Regions from separate parts of the Homo sapiens genome. Here region 2 is linked to region 1. Evidence: fine-mapped expression QTL. A gene starts in region 1. The other region holds a variant in brackets. All regions are shown on one strand. Distances are from middle to middle. Region 1 holds the start of CCDC169 (coiled-coil domain containing 169). Region 2 overlaps CCDC169-SOHLH2 (CCDC169-SOHLH2 readthrough).

The links.
Region 2: its variant is fine-mapped to the expression of CCDC169 in fibroblasts (GTEx, PIP 0.96).

Annotation. Positions count from the first base shown.
Region 1 is chr13:36,290,983-36,302,251 of GRCh38, reverse strand. It overlaps CCDC169 (coiled-coil domain containing 169), which reads left to right and starts at 4,438. Exons shown (of 8, transcript NM_001144981.3): 1 at 4,438-4,615; 2 at 6,395-6,474. The coding sequence starts at 4,533. It overlaps CCDC169-SOHLH2 (CCDC169-SOHLH2 readthrough), which reads left to right and starts at 4,438. Exons shown (of 16, transcript NM_001198910.2): 1 at 4,438-4,615. SPART (spartin) reads left to right here. Exons shown (of 9, transcript NM_015087.5): 9 at 1-614. RefSeq lists enhancers at 2,887-3,849, 3,850-4,811.
Region 2 is chr13:36,216,800-36,228,068 of GRCh38, reverse strand. CCDC169-SOHLH2 (CCDC169-SOHLH2 readthrough) reads left to right here. Exons shown (of 16, transcript NM_001198910.2): 6 at 688-721. It also overlaps a transcript of CCDC169 not described here. Among named protein-coding and RNA genes, the nearest start is that of SOHLH2, 7.9 kb to the right of the region's middle. The variant C/T (reference allele first, on the strand shown) is at 4,691.

The sequences.
Region 1 (11,269 bases):
TGATTGATATATAGATAAAATTATATATTACTTGTAAGGTATGATGAATAACAACACTTAAAAACTCATCACACCTAAAGACATGGAAAGCTGCCAATTACCTATATGTATGTTCTTCCTATTTTCTTACCTCTTTCCCCATGTCATTTTTTATTGTTCCTTGCCATTTTTTAATCACACATGTATGTTCTCCAAACATACTGTTTCATTTTTTGAAGCTTTCTACATATAGTGTCTGAATGTGAAGTCTTACTCAACTTGCTTTTTTGAGTTTATGTTTAAAATTCATTCTTGCGCTTATATGCATGGATGGTTTACTTGCTCTATAGTATTCTGTGTGAGTATACCACAATTTAAGTGTTCATTTTCCTATCAGTTGACATTTGTTTTTAGTTTTTGTTGGTAGAAACAGTACACTCAAAACATCCTTGACTGTCCCCTGGTACACATATGCAAGAGACTTTATGCGTAAGAGTGGAGTTGTTGGCTTGTCAAGTTTTGCAAAATAATGCCAGGTATTTTCCAAAATGATGATATTCTCTTGAGTATTACTTCCCTTTGCAATGTTTTTATTGTTAATGTAGCATATATAAAAAAGTATCTCATAATTTTAATTTGTGTTTTCTTGACCTCCTTTCCTGACCTTAGATCAGTAATTTTTCATGTTCATTTGCCATTCATTTGCCTGTGCTGTAAAATTTGCGTGTTGTCACTGCTGACAATTTTGCTTCTCATGTTTAGGTGTTTACTGAGAATTGTGTATATGTGTGCAAGAGGTAAGGTATCTAATTCCTCCCCTCCTCCCCCACCCCGTAGATAATCAGTTATTTAACCCCCATTTATTGAATAGTTCTTTTCTTCAGTAATTTCCCACAGGTCTTTCTCTATATATAGAGTATGAGTGTTTCTGGGCTCAGACGTTTGTTCCATCTGTCATTTCTTTTGTTCCTGTGCCAGTCCCACACTGTCATCATTGTAAATTAGTAAGCCCTACTGATTGTTAGGGCAAGAGGCTCAATTCCCTCAACCAAATTCTTTAGGAGTATTTTGGCTGATTAAACAAGTTCCATAAGGAGTTTAAAATCTTCCCACAAAGAAACATCAGCCCCAGATGGACTTACAGGTGAGTTCTAACATACCCTAAGAAAATAATGTTACCTTGGGTGCAGAGGTGCACACCTGTAATCCCAACACTTTGGGAGGCTGAGGTTGGGTGGATCTCTCGAGTCGAGGAGTTTGAGACCAGCCTGGGCAACATAACGAGACTAAAGATATTGTTGGACATTGTGAATTTTACCTTATTGGGTACTGGATGTTTTGTGTTCCTATAAATATTCTCGAGTTTTGTCTTGGGAGGGGATTAAGTTACTTAGAACCAGTTGGATACTTTTGGATCTTTCTTTTCAACTTGTTAGGGCTAGTGTTTTTTCCGACTCCTAAATCAAAATCCTTTGTGTACCTGATGCCCTGTGAATTCAGAGGTTTTCCATTCTGGTGGGTGGTAGCAGGTATTATTCCTACCTCTGTAAACTGTAAGGATTTCCCCTCTAATCCTTTGTGATGGTTCTTTCCCCAGCCTGAGTACTTGCCCCACCATGTGTGTGCATTCATCAGTATTCTGCTGCAGAGTGTACCTTGTGGCAGGCCAGGTCTCATTAACACAGGCCTCCATAACAACTGTTTCAGTACTGACTTGAGTGGCTAAGTTAAATACTAAAAGCTAAAAAAACCAAAGCCCTTATACAAAGGCTGGAATGTAATAAAAACCCACCAAGAACTAGGTCTCAAAGCATGACAAAAAAAAAAAAAAAAAAAAAGAAGGAATTCTTAGCTGGACCCATTTAGGATTAAACAAGTTTTTTGGGGTTCTGAAGGAATCCCCAAACCTCCCTGATTTAGCAGGAGACAGGGGTAATCACCCTAGCACCTGGACCCATTTAGATTAAGTTTACTGAGGCTCCAGAGGAAGGTCTTCAGGACTCAAGACCTTAGTTGTAGATTATAAAAAGTTAACCACTTAATGTCTATAGATGAATGCACACTTACACATAGACATATAGCTTAGAAGGTCTGGAAAACTGTAATTTTGAGTTGGTCTGGTTATAGTTTCCAGGGCTTCTGCCTGTAACTGGTTCCAGAAATAAAAACTCTCTTCCTCCCCAGTTCATCTACATGTTCTTACTGGGTCACAAGAAATAGCAACCCAACCCTCAGTTTGGTCTGGGAACACCCTGTGCAGCTCTCCCCTCCAATATCTGCCCTGCAAAGTCTAGCTGCCTTGTTCTCTCTAGACTCTTAGAGAAACTCCGTTTCCTCAACTTAGGGCAACCACCAGCCTCTGCCTGTTTTCTCCCTTTCTGCTTTGTACCCTGGCAGGCCCAGGCCAATTTGGGAGCTTGCCTCATTTGTGTCTCATCTCTTGGTGATCGTTTTCCCTTATTGCCTGATGTTCAATGTTCTTTTTTTGTTCCTCTTAGTTTTTTAGTTGTTTCAGGCAGGAGGGTAAATTCAGGTCCTTTATCTCTGCCAGAAACACAAATCTGTGGTTTCTGTAGTTGTTGACAAACCTGTTTTCTGCTTGCCTTTGCTCCTAATTTCCCACAGTGAGATCCTGCTAACAGATCTTTTTAAGAAATCCTCTGGGTCGGGTGCAGTGGCTCATGCCTATAATCCCAGCACTTTGGGAGGCAGAGGTGGGTGGATCACGAGGTCAGGAGTTCAAGACCAGCCTGAGCAATATGGTGAAACCCCATCTCTACTAAAAATACACAAAAAAATTAAGCCAGGCATGGTGGTGCGTGCCTGTAGTCCCAGCTACTTTGGGAGGCTGAGGCAGGAGAATTGCTTTAACACAGGAGTGGAGTTTGCAGTAAACTGAGATTGTGCCACTGCACTCCAGCCTGGGAGACAGATGAGACTCCGTCTCAAAAAAGAAATCCTCTGTATATTTGGATTTGTCAACAGATAATCTAGTCCTTTTCACTTCATTCTATTCTGTTTACTTGGTTGTGAGTTGCCCTTTCAGACTTAACAGCTAGACAAAATTTTGATAAGCATACCTCCTATATTAGGGTAATTCACAGAAACAGAACCAATAGGGAGTGTGTGTATAAAAGATTTATTATAAGGAATTTGCCCGTACAATTATGAAGGCTGAGAAGTCTCAGGATCTGCAGTTGACAAGCTGGAGATGCAAGCAAACTGATGTGCAGTCCCAGTCTGAGCCCAAGGCTGGAAAAGTGTTCCAGCTCAAGCTGTTTGGCTGTAGGAGCTCCCTCTTACTCCTGGGAGGTCAGCCTTTTTGTTCTATTCTGTCTTCGGTCGATTGGCTGAGGCCCACCCACATTGGGGAAGACAATGTACTATACTCAGTCTACCAATTGAAATGTTAATCTCATCCAGAAACTCAATTGGAAAACTATGTATTCACAACACTTCTGACACCAAATTGTGTTTTCCACACCAATTATCCCATTCTCACTAAAACCTTGGTCTCCACAACCCCTTTATTCTCTAAAGACATTCCTAAGTCTTTAGTCAGTAACTTTTCAACCAATTGCCAATCAGAAAATCTTTGAATCTAGCTGTGACCTGGAAGCCACCCCGTCCCCCACCCCTTCCAATTGCCCTGCCTTTCCCGATGGAACCAGTGTATATCTTAACATGCATTTGATTGATGTCCCATGTCTCCCTAAAATGTATAGAACTAAGCTGTACCCTGACCACCTTGGGCACGTGTTCTCAGAATCTCCTGAGGGCTGTCACCCGCCATTGGTCACTCATTTGGCTCAGAATAAATCTCTTCAAATATTTTACAGAGTTTGTCTCTTTTTGTCAAGGAAACACAGATGTATCAAGGGTAGGATGCAAACTTTGTGATTAAAAATATAATGAAATTTCAAGTTGCAGTGAGCAGCTCTGAGGTATGTTCATGAACAGCACACAGATGCAAAACAATAATCTGGAGGGTTAGCAGTCTTCCCGAGTTCAGGAGGTACCTTTTTAAGACCAGTTCCTCCCGCTCCGACACTGCCAAATCAGCGACTCTGGTGCTTGTTCAACTGAAGCAAAGAAGGGCGCAGCTAATCTTGGATCCAGCGTTTCCCTAACAAGGGCTAAGAGTGAAGCCGACTTTGCCGTCCGGGGCAATGTTTAGGAAAGCAACCAAAGCCAGCAGGAGGGAAGAAAAAGGAGAGGGATATTCTTGGCCCCCTGACACTCCGCTGTGTAGCCGGAGCACGTCTAACCCCAGCGTCTTGAGCAAGGAGTGTCCCTGGAGCTGTTATCCAGGGTCGCTCCACCGCACAGAGTAGGCTTCTCCAGTCTCCCCGGCTGCCCTCGCCCCACCCCCTGCCGCCTGCGGGCATCGCTTTATGACGTCACCACGTGCCTCTGCGGGCAGGCGCGGGAGGTGCGACCGGGGGGCGGTTGGGGTTCACCGCCTCGTGCCGTACTGGCTTCTGGGTGGCCCTTAATGTCTTGTGCTCTAAGGTGCTGAGGGGAAAGACGCGGGAGGTCTCTGGCCTGACACTATGAAGGAAGAGAGAAACTACAACTTCGACGGTGTGAGCACCAACCGCCTGAAACAGCAGTTGCTGGAAGAAGTCCGCAAGAAGTGAGTCGGCGGGCGGCGCGGTGTGGGGTCCCGTCCACACCCCCCGAGCCTTCACCTGCAGAGTCTCAGGGCTGAAGCCGCTGAGGGTGCTGTAAGACCGGCGCCGTGATTAACCCCTGGGCACTTCGGTCTGGGTTCCAAAAGTATTCCATGCGAAAGATTCACGTGCCTCTTTGAGTAAGCCTTTGGTATTGTTAAGTAGGCAGCTTTCCGGGTAGGATGTGCTGCCCTTAAGGATCCAATCATATGGCGTGTATTTTGCCCATATACTGTAATGCCAAAAGTTGTGTTTGGTTTTGATGTCTCCATAAATCCAGGTTTTCTGCTTAAAATTCCAAAGATTTTATTTAGTTATACGGGGTTTTTTTTTTCTTTCATCCCTTTAAGGGGAACTTCATAAAATGACATTTAGTAAAACTGTTACTCCTCCTTTATGCTTTTTAAAAACAGTATTCGTACTTCGTGTTAAATTTTTGAAACATTTAAAGTATTTTTTGGACATACTCCCAACTCCATCCACAAGTCCCGTGAGAATTGGACTCTCCTTTGTGCCTAGATAGGGTTCTGGGTTTTCCTCTATTGTAGCTCCAGTCACAGTATTTTAATTGCCTGTCTATTTCTTGTTTTGCTACCAAACTACACGCGTTCTGAGGACAGGTTCTGTGTATTCTGAGGAAGTAGAGAATAAGAGCAAGTACTTGAGGACAGTCCTGCAAAAACACAAACTCCATCTCTTGTCACTCAGTAACTATGCAATCTTAGACAAGTTAATTAACCTCTTTAATCCTCAGTTTTCTCAGCTCTAAGACTGGTATACAAATAGTCATCTCATACCTCCTGCTGTTGTTCCCAGGTTGGAATGAAATGCACTATAAAGAACTTAGCATTGGCTTGTGATACGCATCCAGTGGAACTTTGCTGCCGCTATTGCTATTTTTCTGTTCACTGTTCACTGAATTCTTCCGTATTTAATACAATGCCTTGAACATAATAGGCACTCAAAAATATTTATTGAATAAATGGCCCTGTCATATGATAATGTTCTATTTACTGATGCCCTAAATAGCTAACCTTTTAAATTAGTGTTTGTTTTTTTCTCTTTGTTTCAGTTTGTCAGCTGTTATGTATTGCCCTAGGTATGCCTTTCTGTAATAATGTGCAGTGCCTAATTTGCTTGGTTCTGAAAAACCAGGTAACTAACTTCTTTAGGATGATATTTAAGTTAAAAATAAAGGATTTCCAAGGGCCGGGCCTGGTGGCTCACGCCTGTAATCCCAGCACTTTGGGAGGCCGAGGCTGGGCGGATCACAAGGTTAGGAGTTCGAGACCAGCCTGGCCAATATGGTGAAACCCTGTCTCTTCTAAAAATACAAAAAAATTAGCAGGGCTTGGTGGCGCATGCCTGTAATCCCAGCTATTCAGGAGGCTGAGGCAGGAGAATTGCTTGAACCCGGGAGGCGGAGGTTGCAGTGAGCCGAGTTTGCACCACTGCACTCCAGCCTGGGCGACAGAGCGAGATTCTGTCTCAAAAAAATAAATAAAAATAAATAAAAGATTTCTAATGGTTGCCTGGGGGTCTTTGAGCTTTAGTGCATATTTGAGTCCTAGAACTGACTAATTGGAAGCCTTCCTTTGCCTGAGTCTTATTTCTTAACCAGTCCTTCAGTAAATAATGTGTCATAGTAAATTGTTCCTGAAGTAGTAGTGGGTTACTATGTATTATTTTTCTGATGTTATTTTTAATTGAATTATAATCAACAAAAATATTTTAAATAACAGGGATGCAGTGCAACTCTCAATATTTGAACTAAGACACAAGATTACGGAACTGGAAGCCAAACTCAATACTGACAATGAAGGTATATAAGTAAATACTTATATTTGTGACTCCTGTATAATTATTGTTCATTTTACCAGGATATCTATGGTGCATTAAATTCCATATATTGAATAATAGTACCAACATTTCAGTATTGCTTTTTGGCCACATTAATGATAGTTTATGATAGAGGCTTTAAAACTGATACTTCAGAATATCAAACCTATTACTATTTAATTATTTTTCTACCTTTCAAGTTCAAAATGTTCATTAATTAGCAAAAACTTTGTTACATGACATCAATATATTATTTCTTTATTAAATAAATATCACCAGTTTTCTATTCACCTCAAGTTACACTCTTTATATCTTAACTTCTAGGTTTGGGATATGTTTAAAATCCGTATCTAGGTTTTAGCTATTGTTGTTGGAAGAATGTGTGTTTGGTGTGGAGGATGCTGTGTACCTACACACTCATATATCCTTAAAATTTGTAATGTATGCAAGATATGACCCTGCCATATGTCAACACTTTAAATGGAAGACCTTTGTTTTCCCTGTTCTAAAGAGGTTCATTGACTATTGGGAGAAAGTATCAAATCAGATTATGGATATGAGAAGTCATATAAGTTCTATGTAAGGATAAATGAAAACTTAGGGAAGGGAAACCTAACAGAATTCGGGTGAGTTAATAAAGACAGGCTTTCCAGAACAGGCATTGTTTGAACTGAATGCTAAAGAACAGGAGGACTTTATTAGGATTATCAGGGTGGGCATTTATAAGGGAGGAGACCACCCCTCATATTGTCTTATGCCCAATTTCTGCCTCCAGAGAAAGAAGAAATAAAAACTAAAAGGCAGAAATGAAATCCACAGGCAGACAGCCCAGCACCACACCCTGGGCCTGGTAGTTAAAGATTGACCCCCAACCTAATCGGTTATGTTATCTATAGATTACAGACATTGTATGGAAAAGCACTGTGAAAATCCCTGTCCTGTTCTGTTCTGTTCTAATTACTGGTGCATGGAGCCCCCAGTCACGTACCCCCTGCTTGCTCAATCAATCTCAACCCTCTCATGCAGACCCCCTTAGAGTTCTAAACCCTTAAGAGGGACAGGAATTGCTTACTCGGGGAGCTCATTTTTTTGAGATGTGAGTCTTGCTGATGCTCCCGGCCGAATAAAGCCTTACCTTCTTTAACTTGGTGTCTGAGGGGTTTTGTCTGTGGCTCGTCCTGCTACATTTATACTCTTCCTCAATTGGGGAGCCATGAACAAAAAGGAATAGTGGCCATATGGGAAATAAAATGCCACTTTCTATAAGTACCCAGTGCTTTGTTAAAGCTTGGTTGCAGAATACTACTTTGTCCCAAGGCTGAAGTAGCTTCCTCTATCTCCATATCTATATCTTAGATATAACCTCAGTCTCTGGGGGCAGGCTCTCAGTGTACTTATCAAGTAGCTGCGTTGGCAGGGTAACTGGAACGTCCTCATGTACCCAGTTACAGGAAAAACAGAAGGCATGCTCACAGGTACACATGCAATAACTATGCCCAGTAGTAAAATGTGGCTCAACAAGTTGTAGCAGTTCTCAAAAGAAGGAGCTAGTATGTGGGTATAAAGAGAAAACGTCAGAATGATAGGAGAGAAAGTTCTTTCCTTAGTGGGCCAAAAGTAAGGCCTAAGGTGAAGGGCAGAAACATTTACTCCTTTAAAGCCAGGGACTGTGTCAGGTGAGGTAGTTATTATTATCCCCATATATGGAAGAATGAAATTCAGGAATTCAAATAACTTCTAAGGTAATATAGCCAGGTAGTGGCAGAGCCATGACTTGATCCTAGATCATCTATTTACCATGCCTTCAGTAAATGATAATACAACTTCCATCTACCACATCACACTCAAAACACTTCTGCTTGTCTTTTGCTGCATAGCAAATCACCCTATAATTTAGGAGCTTAAAACAACAAACTCTTATAATTCTGTGGATTAACTGGGTTGGTTCACCTGGATGGTTCTTGATTGGGGTCTCTGGTTGCAATCAGGTATACTGAAGATTCAAGTGAGCTGGTCATTCCGTGATGACTCATTCACATGGCTAACATCTGACACTGGCTTTTGACTGGAAGCTCAGCTAGGGCTGCCTGTCAGAAATGCCTCTTGTACCTTTTTCTTCTCACAGCATGGTGGTTAGGTTCCAAGAGGATGTATCCCAAGAGCAAGCATTCCAAAAGACATAAGTAGAGACTGCCAGGCCAGTCAAGGGCTACTCCCAGAACTGGCACAGGGGTATATCCACTGTATTCTGTTGGTCATAGTAGTCACAGATTCAAGGGACTGGAGAGGTAGACTGCTTTTAAGGTCACATTACAGAGCAACACATGGGATGGGATATATTATTGGCAGTCATCTTTGGAAAATACAGTCTGCCACAGGAGCATTAAACATAAAGCCATTTGGGGAATATGCTAAGTAATTGATAAAAATGGAACATAGGTCATAATGAGAATGCATTAGGAGATGAGGTTAAAGTTTATGAAGGAGATAAATCAAGAAGATTGCATGATGCTAATGAATTTACGTTTATCCTGAAGGCAGTGGGGCAATATTAAAGGTGTTTTAAAAGGAATTTATTACTGGAAATATGCGCACATGTGACAAATAGGGGTACATTCACTGTTCAGATAATTTTTTCACCCTTTCTGCTTTCTTCTCAAACCTCTACCACCTCTCCACTCAATCACACTCTCAGGTAATGAGCTTACCCTCTTCTTTCAAAGAAAAAAGAGAAGCAATCAGAAGAGGACTTCTACCTGTTTCTACCAACAGAGCTACCCATCTACCTGCACCCTTGCACATCCTCTTCCCTCTTGTTTCTATGAATGATCTGTCCTTATTCTTGTCTCAGGTTATCTCCTCCCTTTGTGGAGTAGATCCTACCTACTTGCACCTACTCAAGGATATCACTGTAGTGATGGCCCTCTCTTCCCTACACTGTCTGTTTTCCCTGCTCTACTGGATCATTCCCAACAGCAGACCAACATGCTGAATTTATTTTATCTAAACAACAAATGACAGGCTTCTTTTGGCCCCACTTTTCCCCTTCAGCTAGCATCCCCTGTCCCTGCCCCATTTACAGCAAAAGCCTTCAAAAGAGTAGTTTTTATTTCTACTTTCTCATCTGCTTATTGTTTGATCTTGCTTGTCACTGGATTAGTTTTTAGGCAGGTGGTAAACACAGCCAACTCCAAAGAGCTTTATATTCTCAAAGTCACCTCTTGAAGCCTTTTAGGATTCATAGGAAACTGTATGTAGAAAATTTGGTTTTATGTTTTAATTTGAATTTCACAACAAAGTTTAGTAATAAGAAAATGGTAAAGAAAATGTTCAGGTGACTTTTTTTTTAAGCAAGAAGAATTAGTATTTGTGTAGGGCTTTAAGTACGTTTTTTAAAAAAATTGAAACCTCACAACTACCCTTTGAAAATAATATCATTACCTCCGTTTTATAGATTGAAAAATGGAGGCCAGGTGCGGCAGTTCACACCTGTAATCCCAGCACTTTGGGAGGCCAAGGCAGGCAGATCACCTGAGGTCAGAAGTTCGAGACCAGCCTGGCCAACATGGTGAAACTGTGTCTGTACTAAAAATAACAAAAGAAAAATTAGTCAGGTGTGGTGGTGGGTGCCTGTAATCCCAGCTACTCTGGAGGCTGAGGCAGGAGAATCGATTGAACCGGGAGGTAGAGGTTGCAGTGAGCAAAGATTGCACCATTGCACTCCAGCCTGGATGACAAGAACGAGACTCCATCCAAAAAAAAAAAAAAAAAGAAGACTTATTGACAACACACAAGTTTACATCTTCATCCTGGATTTCTCCTTTGAGTCTTTTATAGGCTGGTTTCTATGCCCAAATACCTTTGGCTAGTAGGTAATATATTAATAAATCCAATATATTTTTTTAAATCACCTCAGTAAATGCTAAAATTTTAAAAATAAAATTCCATTTGTTTTTCAAAACAAGGAAAAGAATACTTCTATTTATCTCAAACTAGCATAATACTTAACAATGAAATAGTAGAGGCATTTCCATTCTTGGGGGAAAAAATACCAAAGCTGCCTGCTGCCATTATTAAAATGCAATATAGTTTTTGAAAGTTCTAATTAAGCAATAAAATATGAAATAGAAATGAGTTATAGCTATTAGAGAGGAAGTGATACAGTTATAAAGATTAGTATATTAATAAAGAATTAGAAAATAGTTGGATACAATCATGAAATAAATATTTATTTAAAAAAACAAATGCCAGCAATAACCAGTTAGAAAATAGGGTTTTTAAATGATCCCACCCACAATTCCAACCGAAACCATAAAAGATCTGACAATATTCCTGACCAGAAATATGAGGACCTGTATGAAGAGATAACAGAAGACTATAACTATAAAGGCATAACTGTTTAGTCCAAATTCTTACTTATTTAACATAAGAGATTTCATACAGGAAACTCTAGAATAAAATAAATTTGGGAAAGCTTTGCAGCATTAACACATGTTTGCTGAGCTTCTGAGAGACTTTGTTAGTAAGTGAAACATAACAGTGTGTATCTTATTGCTACAGAGTCTGTCTTGTCAGTCTTATGTGATCTCTATTTTAATGTTAATGCTGGTCATTTGTGCCTAAACTCCAAATTGGGGGAAGGTATAGTGTGGCATGTCCAACCCTCCACTTCTCATAATGGCCTGAACTAGTTTGTCAGGTTTCTTTGGGATTCCCTTTGGCCAAGAGGTGGATACATTCAGTCTGTTGAGGGGGCTTAGGATTTTTTTTTTTTTTAG
Region 2 (11,269 bases), 74 kb after region 1:
TGATGATTGGGTAAATAAAATGTAGTATATTCCAACAATGGATATTATTTGGCAGTAGAAAGGAATGAAATGCTGATATATGCTGCAACATGGGTAAACCTTGGAAACATTATCCTAAGTGAAATAATGGAATAACAAAAGACCATATATTGCATAATTCCATTTATATGAAATGTCCCAAATAGGCAAATCCATAGAGACAGAAAATAGATCAATAGTTGCTGAGGGTTGGGGGAAGGTCGGTGATGGAGAATGACTGCTAATAGGTACAGGATTCTTTTTTGGAGGGATGAAAATGTTCTAAAATTGATTGCAGTGACAGTTGCACAACTCTGTGAAACTAATGAAAACTATTGTATACTCTAAGTGGGTTAATTGTATGTTTTGTGATTTATACCTCAGTAAAGTTGTTGTAAAAATGTTAAATATACATTAACATTTTAATATTAGTAGATAAATGTTAATGAAATATTATTTGATCTTTCTCAATAATATGATCCTAAAAATACAAAAGTGCATCATCACTAGTGCTATCACTGGGTATAGAGCTTTTATTTATTTATTTATTTTTGTGTATATGTGTGTGTGTGTGTAAAAATACAATAAACTGGTTGGAATATCTGCTTTATTAGCATATTTGTACCTTCGCTGTCCTTATTCATGTTCTATTCACATCTCTTCAAACAGCCTCCTCTTAAAAGAAGAATTGGACCCTTTAAAGGTCAGCTGCTTGGAGACATTGGGTTTCAGTGCTGCAGGTGTGGCTGGACCAGAGAATAGGACATGCCTCGGACAAAAAGCACTCTGGCCCGCCTGCTTACATGGGTCCTCAACCTTGGCTGTGTGTCAGACTCACCTGAAGAGCTAAAAGTAAAATACTCAGACATGTGCACCACCCCCAGGATTGTGATCTCACATGTATTTCTTTAAGCCTCCCCCAGGAAATTGTACAGAAAAGATTGGGACCCACTCTGCTGGTTTAGTGTGGCTTCATCTCTCAAACTGAATGAAACTTCTTCCAACTCTCCTCGAGCTGACTTCACCTTGGTCTTTTTATTTTTACTTTTTTACAGTGAGAGATAAGGATTTTATTTTTTCTTCGTTGTTATTTATTTCAATTTTTATTTTAGATTCAGAGGTACCTGTGCAGGTTTGCTATCGTGGTATATTGTATAATGCTGAGATTTGGGGCACAAATAATCCCATCACCCAGGGACTGAGCATAGTAGCCGAAAGTTATTTGTCAATGTTTGCTCTCCTTTCTTCCTCCACCCTCTAGTGGTCCCCAGTGTCTATTGTTGCTGTCTTTATGTCCATGAGTACCCAGTGTTTGGCTATCACTTGTAAGCGAGAACATGCAGTATTTGGTTTCCTGCTTCTGTGTTAATTTGCATAGGAAAATGGCCTCCAGCTGCATCCATATTGTTACAAAGGACATGATTTCATTTCTTTTATGACTGTGTAGTATTCCATGGTGTGTATCAGGAGTCCCCAGCCTCTGGCCGTGGACTGTTACCCATCCATGGCCTGTTAGGAATTGGGCTGCCCAGCAGGAGGTGAGCTGCAGGTGAGCAAGCATTACCACCTGAACTCCACCTCCTGTCAGATCAGCAGCAGCATTAAATCCTCATAGGAGCACGAACTCTTGTGAATTGTGCATGTGGAGGATCTAGGTTGCATACTCCTTATGAGACTCTAATGCCAGATGAGAATTTAACTAATGATTAATCTGAAACAGTTTCATCCCAAAACCATCCCCTCCCCAAAATACAGTCCGTGGAAAAATTGTTTTCCATGAAACCAGCCCTTGGTGTCAAAAGGGTTGGGAACTGCTGGTGTATATGTAGCACATTTTCTTTACTCAGTCCACTGTTGATGGGCACCTAGGCTGATTCTGTATCTTTACTATTGTGAATAGTGCTGCGATGAACATGCAAGTGCATCTGTCTTTTTAGTAGAAAGATTTGTGTTTTTTTGGATATATACCCAGTAATAAGATTGCTGGGTCAAATGGTAGTTTTAAGTTCTTTAAGAAATCTTCAGACTGCTTTCCACAGTGGCTGAACTAATTCACATTCCCACCAACAGTGTCTAAGTGTTCCCTTTTCTCCACAGTCTCACCAGCATCTGTTGCTTTTTTACTTTTCAATAATAGCCATTCAGACTGGTGTTAGATGGCATCTTATGGTGGTTTTGATTTGCATTTCTCTGATGATTAGTGATGTAGAGCATTTTTTTCATGTTTGTTGGCCACTTGTATGTCTTCTTTTGATAAGTGTCTGTTCGTGTCTTTTGCCCATTTTTTTTAATGGGGTTATTTTTTGCTTGCTGAGTTGTTTCAGTTTCTTACAGTTTCTGGATATTAGACCTTTGTCAGATGCATAGTTCATGGATATTTTCTCCCATTCTGTAGGTTTTCTGTTTACTCCATCGCTAGTTTCTTTTGCTGTGCATAAGCTCTTTAATTAGGTCCCATTTGTCAGTTTTTGTTTTGGTTGCAATTGCTTTTGCGACTTACTCATAAATTCTTTTGCAAGGCCGACATCCAGAATGGTGTTTCCAGGGGCCAGGCCTAGTAGTTCATGCCTGTAATCCCAACACTTTGGAAGGCCAAGGCATGAGGATTGCTTGAGCCCAGGAGTTTGAGACCAGCCTGGGCAACATAGTGAGACTGCCATCTCTACAAAAAGTAAAAAATTAGCCAGGCATGGTGGTGCATGCCTATGGTCTCAGCTGCTTGGGAGGCTGAGGTGGGAGGATCACTTGAGCCTGGCAAGTCAAGGCTGCAGTGAGCTGTGATCATGCCACTACACTTAAGGCTAGGCAACTGAATGAAACCCTGTCTCAAAAAAAAAAAAAGTGTTTCCTAGGTTTCTTCTAGGATTCTTATAGTTTGAGGGCTTACATTTAAATCTTTAATTCATCTTGAGGTAATTTTTGCATATGGTGAAAGGTAGGGGTCCAGTTTCATCCTTCTGTATATGGCTAGCCAGCTATTCCAGCACCATTTGTTGAATAGGGAGTCCTTTCCTTATTGCCTATTTTTGTTGACTGTTGAAGATCAGATGGCTGTAGGTATGTGGCTTTTTTTTCCTGGGTTCTTTATTCTGTTCCATTGGTCTCTGTGTCTGTTTTTGTGCCAGTACCATGCTGTTTTGATTACTGTAGCTTTACAGTATAGTTTGAAGTCTGGTAATGTGTTGCCACTGGCTTTTTCCTTTTTGATTAAGATTGCTCTGGCTATTCGGGCTCCTTTTTACTTCCACATGAATTTTAGAATAGTTTTTCTAGTTCTGTGAAAAATGATGTTAGTAGTTTGATAGGAATAGCATTGAATCTGTAGATTGCTTTGGGCAGTATGACTATTTTAACAATATTGATTCTTCCACCCCATGAATATGGAATGTTTTACCATTTGTTTATGTTGTCTGATTTCTTTTGGTGGTGTTTTATAGTTCTCCTTATAGAGATCTTTCACCTCCTTGGTTAGATATATTCCTAGGGGTTTTTGTGTATGTCTTTGTGTATGTGGCTATTGTAGATTGGATTGCATTCTCGATTTGGCTCTTAGCTTGAATGTTGTTGGTGTATAGAAATGTTATTGATTTTTTGTACATTGATTTTGTATCCTGAAACTTTACCGAAGTTGTTTATCAATTCCAGGACCCTTTTGGCAGAGTCTGTAGGGTTTTCTATGTATAGGGTCATATTATCCTTGAAGAGAGATAGTTTGAATTCTTTTCATATGTAGATGCCTTTTTTTTTTCTTTCTCTTGTCTGATTGCTCTGGCTAGCACTTCCAGTACTATGTTGAATAGAAAATAGCTATTTTGGGGAGAATTTTCCAACCAAGATGTCAAAACAATAATGATGAGAGCATTACATGCTAATTCCCAATATTTTCCTTTGACTTATTTAAATTTAAATAATCCAATTTTTTTACTTAATGACCTTGTGGAGATATTTATAAAACACCTTTTGATTTTTGACTGGGGCTGGATTTTTAAAAAATTTATAAAGAGCTATATAGTATTGATTTCAAATAAATTATTCCTACCTTTTCTTCATCTGAATTAGTTTTAGCATGTATAGGAGATTCCAAAGCAGAGTTACCTATATCAATTTTAGTACTATTATTTTCATATTCTACTGGATAAGAAATTACTTATTTGGAACTAAGAATTATTCTTGCAACAGAAGCTTATCAGTAACACTATTTGATTGCTTTTTGCTGTGTGCACAGGTGAGGACCTGTCTAGACTTCTATACTATGTACATTGTATTAATTTTGTTCATAAATTAGGTAATTGAGTTATAGATACTAATTTAATATTTAAAAAATTTAGATTGTTGATTTTAAATATCAGAATAACCAAACTGTAACAACAGTGCTGGGATTTTGGTATTTAAAAAGGGCAGAGTATACCAGAATATTGAAAACTGGTATTGAAATCACTACATATAATTGAATTATGAAAAAGTACCTTTAAGATAATAAAGCACTACATAAATATGAGCTCATATCATATATTTGACAGTAGGGCATTATTTTTACAGGTTAACATTCAATTAATCTGACTATGAATTAGAAAAATCTTGAATTTGTAGAGTTCATTTAACTTTATTAAAGCAATTTGCCAACTCAGCTACAGAAATACAGAAAATATTACTATCTGGAGAACTACCCAGT[C/T]GTAAGTTTATCATCGTTGAAATTGCTTAAGCAGAGATTAGGTGACCATTCCTCAGGAATAGTATACGAAGGATTCCTGCAGTGGTGGAGGTGTGTATTTGATTGCTGTCAGTGTGCCTTCTGATACTAACATTCTGTAATTCCCTGCTCATTTATCACACAACAAAACATGAGACAAAAATAACTCCATAAAATATATGTTGATTATACCATATAGGTTGTATACATATAGACTATAAATATGAGCTTTCAAAAACGTTTTGCCATTAGCTAATAACTAACAAAATCAGTTTTATTAGGGTGGTTTTGTGTTTATATTGCATGGTGTTCAATGAGCTTATATCTGTAGTTTTCATCAAATGTGGAAAATTTTGGGCCATTTTTGTATTATTTTTCTGCCCTTTCCTGTCCTCCTGGGACTTTAATTACAGCCTGTTGTAAACCACTTGATATTGTTCCTTTTGGTTCTTTTTTTATATCTTCTGTCACTGTATTTATGTTTTCCTTTAAGTAATTGGATAGGCATATAATGACTTTTAGCATACTTACACAGTATCTTTTTCATTTCTCAGTCTGTTTCTGGTGACTGATTTTTCTCCTGGTTTCGGGTTTCATTTTCTGCTTCTTGTAATATCTACTAATTTTATATTAGATGCCAGGCATTGATGATTTCACATTGTTGGTTATAGATTTATTCTTATAGGCAGTTAAATTAATTGCAGTTCAGTTTCTTCTTTTCAAGCCTTTGTTAGGGTAAGTATAGAGTGAGCTTCACCCCACAGAGAGTTTAACACCATTTCTAAGGCATAGCTATTGTGGGATCACTAGAAAATTCTGTGAGTGATCAGCTGGGACACTCAACACTGGCTAGTTGGACCTCAGATGCCTCACAGGCCTGTGTGGCACTCTGCTTGACCTCGTAGAGTTTTGCTCTAGGCTTACATGTCTTAATATCCAGCCACCTCTCAAGGGGCTCCTATGCAGATTTCTGGAATTCTGTTTTTACATATCTGTTAGCTCTCTGGTACTCTGCTCTGCAACTTCAGCCACTTCAGCCTCCCTGAACTCCAGCCTCTGTCTTCTCAACTACATGAAACCACCATGCTTTGTTTGGGATCCCCTACCCTGCTCTGAGGTCTGTGCCTGCAGGTAGAAATCTAGAATGATGGATGGGCCTCACTTCATTCCTCTCAGGGGTCATAGTCTTAAGGTGCATGTCAATATCTGCAGTTGTTTCATATATTTTTGACTAATTTTCTGTTTCTTCACAGTAAGAAGCTAAATCTTTCCCCTGTTACTCTCAAAGCCAGAAGTAAAGGATAAAGCATTAAAATAAAAGCAAAGAAAATATTTTAAAATCTAATATAAAAATCCATTTTGCTATGCATCTGTAACTTTTTTTTATGTTATCACCTAAATATATTTTTCTCACCTTAATCAATGAAATTTGCACTGGATAAAATGACTGGATGGGGCTTTGTCTTACCTTGGCAAGGAGGTAAGTATATTCTGGGAAGAAAGAGCAAAAGCTATTTATTTGGTGATCAAATTGATGGACTGTGGCAAAAACTGTTGCTATGCACTCACCAAACTGTTTTCTTTTTCTATGGGACACAGAACTAGGCTTTTTCTATGGGACACAGAACTAGGCTACACATACATAACAAAGTGTATGTGTTAAACACTTTGTTTGCCAGTGTGTGATGATGCACACATACTTCTTTGCTTAGTGATATATGCATGAAACACTGTTTGGTAGTGTGTGGTATGTATGCTACTGTGTTTAGAGATAGGCGTGTGAAACACTGTGTGCACTTAGGTGTGACCCTGCGACTGACTTCAGGCCAATATAACCTAGACATAAGTGATACATGTCGTTTCTGTGACTAGCCCATTAAAACGTCCCAGGTGATCCTTCTTGTTTGTGCTTTTTCTTTAAAAAAAAATTGTGTTATGGGTGGATATAGAGGGTCTAAAAGCAAATTCCAAGGCCTCAGGGATAGCAGATCCACAAGGTAGAAGAAAATTGGGTCCCCGAATCACTTCATGTAGCACATCCATTCCTCTCACTTTGTTAATCCTCATTTGGTTTTTATGTGAGAGAAAAGGAAATCCTTTTGTATGTTTCTGTGTGTATTAAGACACTGAGATTTAGGTTTTACTGGTTGAAGCAGTCAGCCTATGCTCACTTGTATCAAACAATATTTTTAGTAAGACTTACAGGTATTTAGGTTTTCTTCAGTAGATAATATCTTTCTTGGCAACTACATGAGAGAGAAATTGAGCTATTCATTGATGGTGATGGCTCCTGGCCTGCTGCATCACTGAATCAGGTTCTTGAATCTCAATTGGTATTTTAAAATTGATTCTAACTTGGTATATTTTCAAGTCTGCTGAACATAACTAAAACAATGATTTTTTTTAACTAAACAATCTTTTTGCATTTCCATCAATGTCTTTCTAGGATGCTGTTCTTTCAAGCCTTAGTACAAATACTGTAAAATCTGATAGGCAAATACTTGCTGGGCCCAAACAACTGTGGAATGTAGCAGTCAGTGTGTGAGCATGGAAGGATGCCCATAATAACCTTTGCTCAGATGAGGAAGAACGCACAGCATCACTCATCCACAGCATTTATAAAATCCCATTGGGAAGATATGGTGAAAGCCCTCTTCACTGGGAATGGGGTCGGTTCCTTTCTTGGGCTCTGACTCTGCTCTTGGGAGGAATGTTCTTGTCCATTTTTTCTTAGTAGCCACTGGCTCCAGTCCGTGGGAGTTTCTTCCTTTTTCATCTTCTTGCCCACATTCGAAGTGGATGATGAGGTTATGCCCTCTATTGGGGATGCATAGCTTTCAGAGCTCATAATCTGTTTGAACAAAATTGGGTGTCTAAAGCTGATTTTACAGTTCAAAGGCTTTTTAGTCCTAGTTTATATAAATTCCATCAAAATAGTAGCCAGTTCTATGTATAATATAATTTCAGAGCATGATTTGTTTCTTTGGCCCATACCTCTCTCTGCCTAATGGCAGCTACCATGCAGGTTATTTAACTAATTGATTAAGGTGATGTGAAGTTAACACCTATCCATAATCTGATCCTTGCCACAAGGCTGAGTATTAGTGGCCTTTTGTGGCTTGACTTTTCTCAGCCTTATCTCTTTCTTTTTGGGACCTAGAAATAGTTGGCCTTTCCAACTCTTTAATGCCCTTCAATGCCCCAAATTTCTAGATTCTTTCCTAGACTCTCTCTATTCCCTTTTATTTCTCCTTACAAACTAGTTAGCTATATTGCAAGCTCATCAATTTATTCTCTCTTACCAAAGGCAGCCAGTAACATTTAGTACACATTTAGTAGTCCATTCTCATGCTGCTAATAAAGACATACCTGAGACTGGGTAATTTATAAAGGAAAGAGGTTTAATTGACTCACAGTTCCAGCATGGCTGGGGAGGCCTCTGAAAACTTAAAATCATGGCAGAAGGGGAAGCAAACACGTCCTTCTTCACATGGCAGCAAGAAAGAAAAGTGCCAAGCAAAAGTGGGAAAAGCCCCTTATATAACTGTCAGTTCTTATGAGAACTCACTCACTCTTATCATGAGAACAGCAGCATGGGGGTAACCTCCAATATGATTCATTTACTCCCCACTAGGTCCCTCCCAGACATGTGGGGATTATGGGAACTACAATTCAAGATGAGATTTGGGTAGGGACATAGCCAAACCATATCAACACATTATTATTCGTTGTTTTCCCAACATCCTTCCTTTGACCTACAGTCTTAGTAAGCACTTGGTCTGCTATGGCATAACAGGGATCCCAGGCTTCCAACCTCCCATATTTCTTTCTGTGCCTCTCACTGCAGACCTGCTAAGTTAATGCCACACATATTAGTATTTTGTTTAGGCAGCACCTAAATTCAAGTTATTAATCTCTCTATTATGACTATAAAAAATAACTCAGACTTTAGAGGCTTAACACAAAGATTTCTTTCTCTCACACATCACAATCCATTCTGGCTTCAGCAGTGAAAAGAAGTAAAACTAAATAAATAACAAAATAGTATTTATATCTGGGGAGACAGGGAAATGTGAATGAGAGACACACATAAGGTATTTTAAAATTATTGATAGTGTCTGTTAGGCTGAGTGGTAGGTACATACACATCCATATTATTATACTTTAAATAATACATATGTAATAAATATACTCGGGTATGTATGAAATTTTCAAAATAAAAAAATTAAAATTACTTCAGATAACTTTTTTTTTTTTTTTTGAGACAAGGTCTTGCTCTGTTTCCCAGGATTGAGTGCAGTTGCATGATCATAGCTCACTGCAGCCTCAAATTCCTGGGCTCAGCCTCTCAGGTGTGTGCCACCACACCTAATTTTTTTTTTTTAAAATTTTTGGTAGAAATGATATTTTGCCGTGTTGCCCAGGCTAGTCTTGAACTCCTGGCCTCAAGCATTCCTCCTGGCTCGGACTCCCAAAGTGTTTGGATTACAAGTGTGAGCCACCTATACCAGGCCTCTCAGCTGACTTTTAAACCATATTAGTATACATGAACATATTCACGAGTAAAGTGTGAATGACATTTTTTCCACTCCCGCTTATCCCTCACCTTTACAAACAAGAAGCTTCTCTCCTTGAAGGTGGCCTGACATTTTTGTGCTAAAGAAATTCCTCATGACTTCATACAGCTGCAGTTGGCTGTCACTGTGGCTAAAGGTAAAAGAGTTCATTTGTAACTTTGTGATCTCCTCAGACCATAGAGCTATAACCAATGACTACCATGGGGGGATGCACTCAAAATGAATCAATGTGGGATCGCACAGGCCCACTGTGGACTTTGTGTGACACAGTCCCTCCTCCATGGTTATAGTGTTACTTTGGTTTAGCTCTACATTTCCTAGCAAAGACTTGTGATTAAAATGAGGCAGATTTAGTAGAACTAAATCCGGTTTTAAAAAGTGAACATACTGAATGATGAGAAAACTGTCAAGTCTTATTGCAATCTAACGCAGGGCATCATTAGAAGTTGGCACTATTCTTTGACCTGTGTTACTACCTAAGGGCAGTGGTTCTAAACTCATTGGGAAAAACATGTATTTATTATCACCTTCTGTATGTATACTAAATACTAGGATATGAAATCTAATAAACAGTCTCCGCCTTACCATGCTGCTAAAATCAAGTCATAATTGTTGAGCAGAGGTGTGAGACAGTGTTAGTCTATTTAAAGTGCTATAACAAAATACATACTGGGTGGCTTACAAACAACAGAAATTTATTCTCACAGTTCTGGAGGCTGTGAAGTCCAAGATCAAGGCAGCAGCAGATTCAATATCTGGGGAAGGCCCACTTCCTGGTTCATAGATGGCATCTTCTCACTGTGTCCTCACGTGGTAGAAGGGGTGAGGGATCTCTCGCGGGCTTCTTTTACAAGGGCACTAATCCAGTTTATGAGGGCTCCTCCCCCATGACCTATTACCTTCCAAAGATCCCACCTCTTAATACTATTACCTGGGGGCTAGATTTCAAATATGAATTTTGGGGGGACATCAATATTAAATCTTTAGCAGATGGAATTAGTACTACTTTGAAAATTTTTCGTTGTCTTCTCAGACTAACCACAGAACAAAAGTGTGAGTCAGCCTGTTGTGTGGGAGAAACCCAAGCAAGCACAAGTATAACATTCAGGGGTAAGCAGGTGTGCTAAACCTCAGACAACGCAGGTGTCAGAACTGTGCTTTCAGGTTAGGAGGACTGAGGGAGAGGCAGAAAGAAGGCATGCACGCAGCAGAAGTGGAAGCCTCTTTGATGCAGGGATAATGGGACAGGAAATGTTTTTCAGGCAGAGCTCAGAATCAAATAAGTGAATTAGCAGCTGGGAAGGATCAGAACCTAGATTCAGGGCAGTTCCCAAACCAATAAACTGTGCTTACACTGTTGTGATGGCAAGTGCTATTCTTTAAGGCAGCTTGGGGCTCCTCTAGGCTTCAGATGACTTATCCTATCAATACTACAATTCCAAAGAAAGAAGTTACTCTATCTGCTTGTGCAAATCTTATACTGGGGACTCTTGGGGGGACCTCAGGACACTATTAGGGAATAGAAACTAATCTAGTCACTTGATTTGAAGGTAAGTCTAGAAAGCCAGAATGGGACAAGGTAATGTGGCCCTAATGCCACACAGAGGAATGGGACTTAATTGTAATAAGCAGAGAAACCCTTGTACGTTTTCAAATAGGGAAAGGACACGATTAAAACTGACCTTTCCTTTTCCCCATGCAACCAGCAACACAATTTACACCAGTTCTGGCTTTGAAATACTGAGTTTGCCATTTTGGTGTGTGTAATATTTCTTCCTTTCCTCCAAACGTCATCTTTTCCTTTCCACTACACAAGATTCAAGAATGTGAAAGATGCCAAAGAAATTAAATGGCTTACACTCTATGTTATAATTTGGAGGGGTTATATTAATAGTAGGGTTTCTCAACCTCAGCACGAATGCCATTTTGGGCCACATAATTCTCTGTTGTAGAGCGCTGTCCTGGGCATTGTAGGATGTTTAGC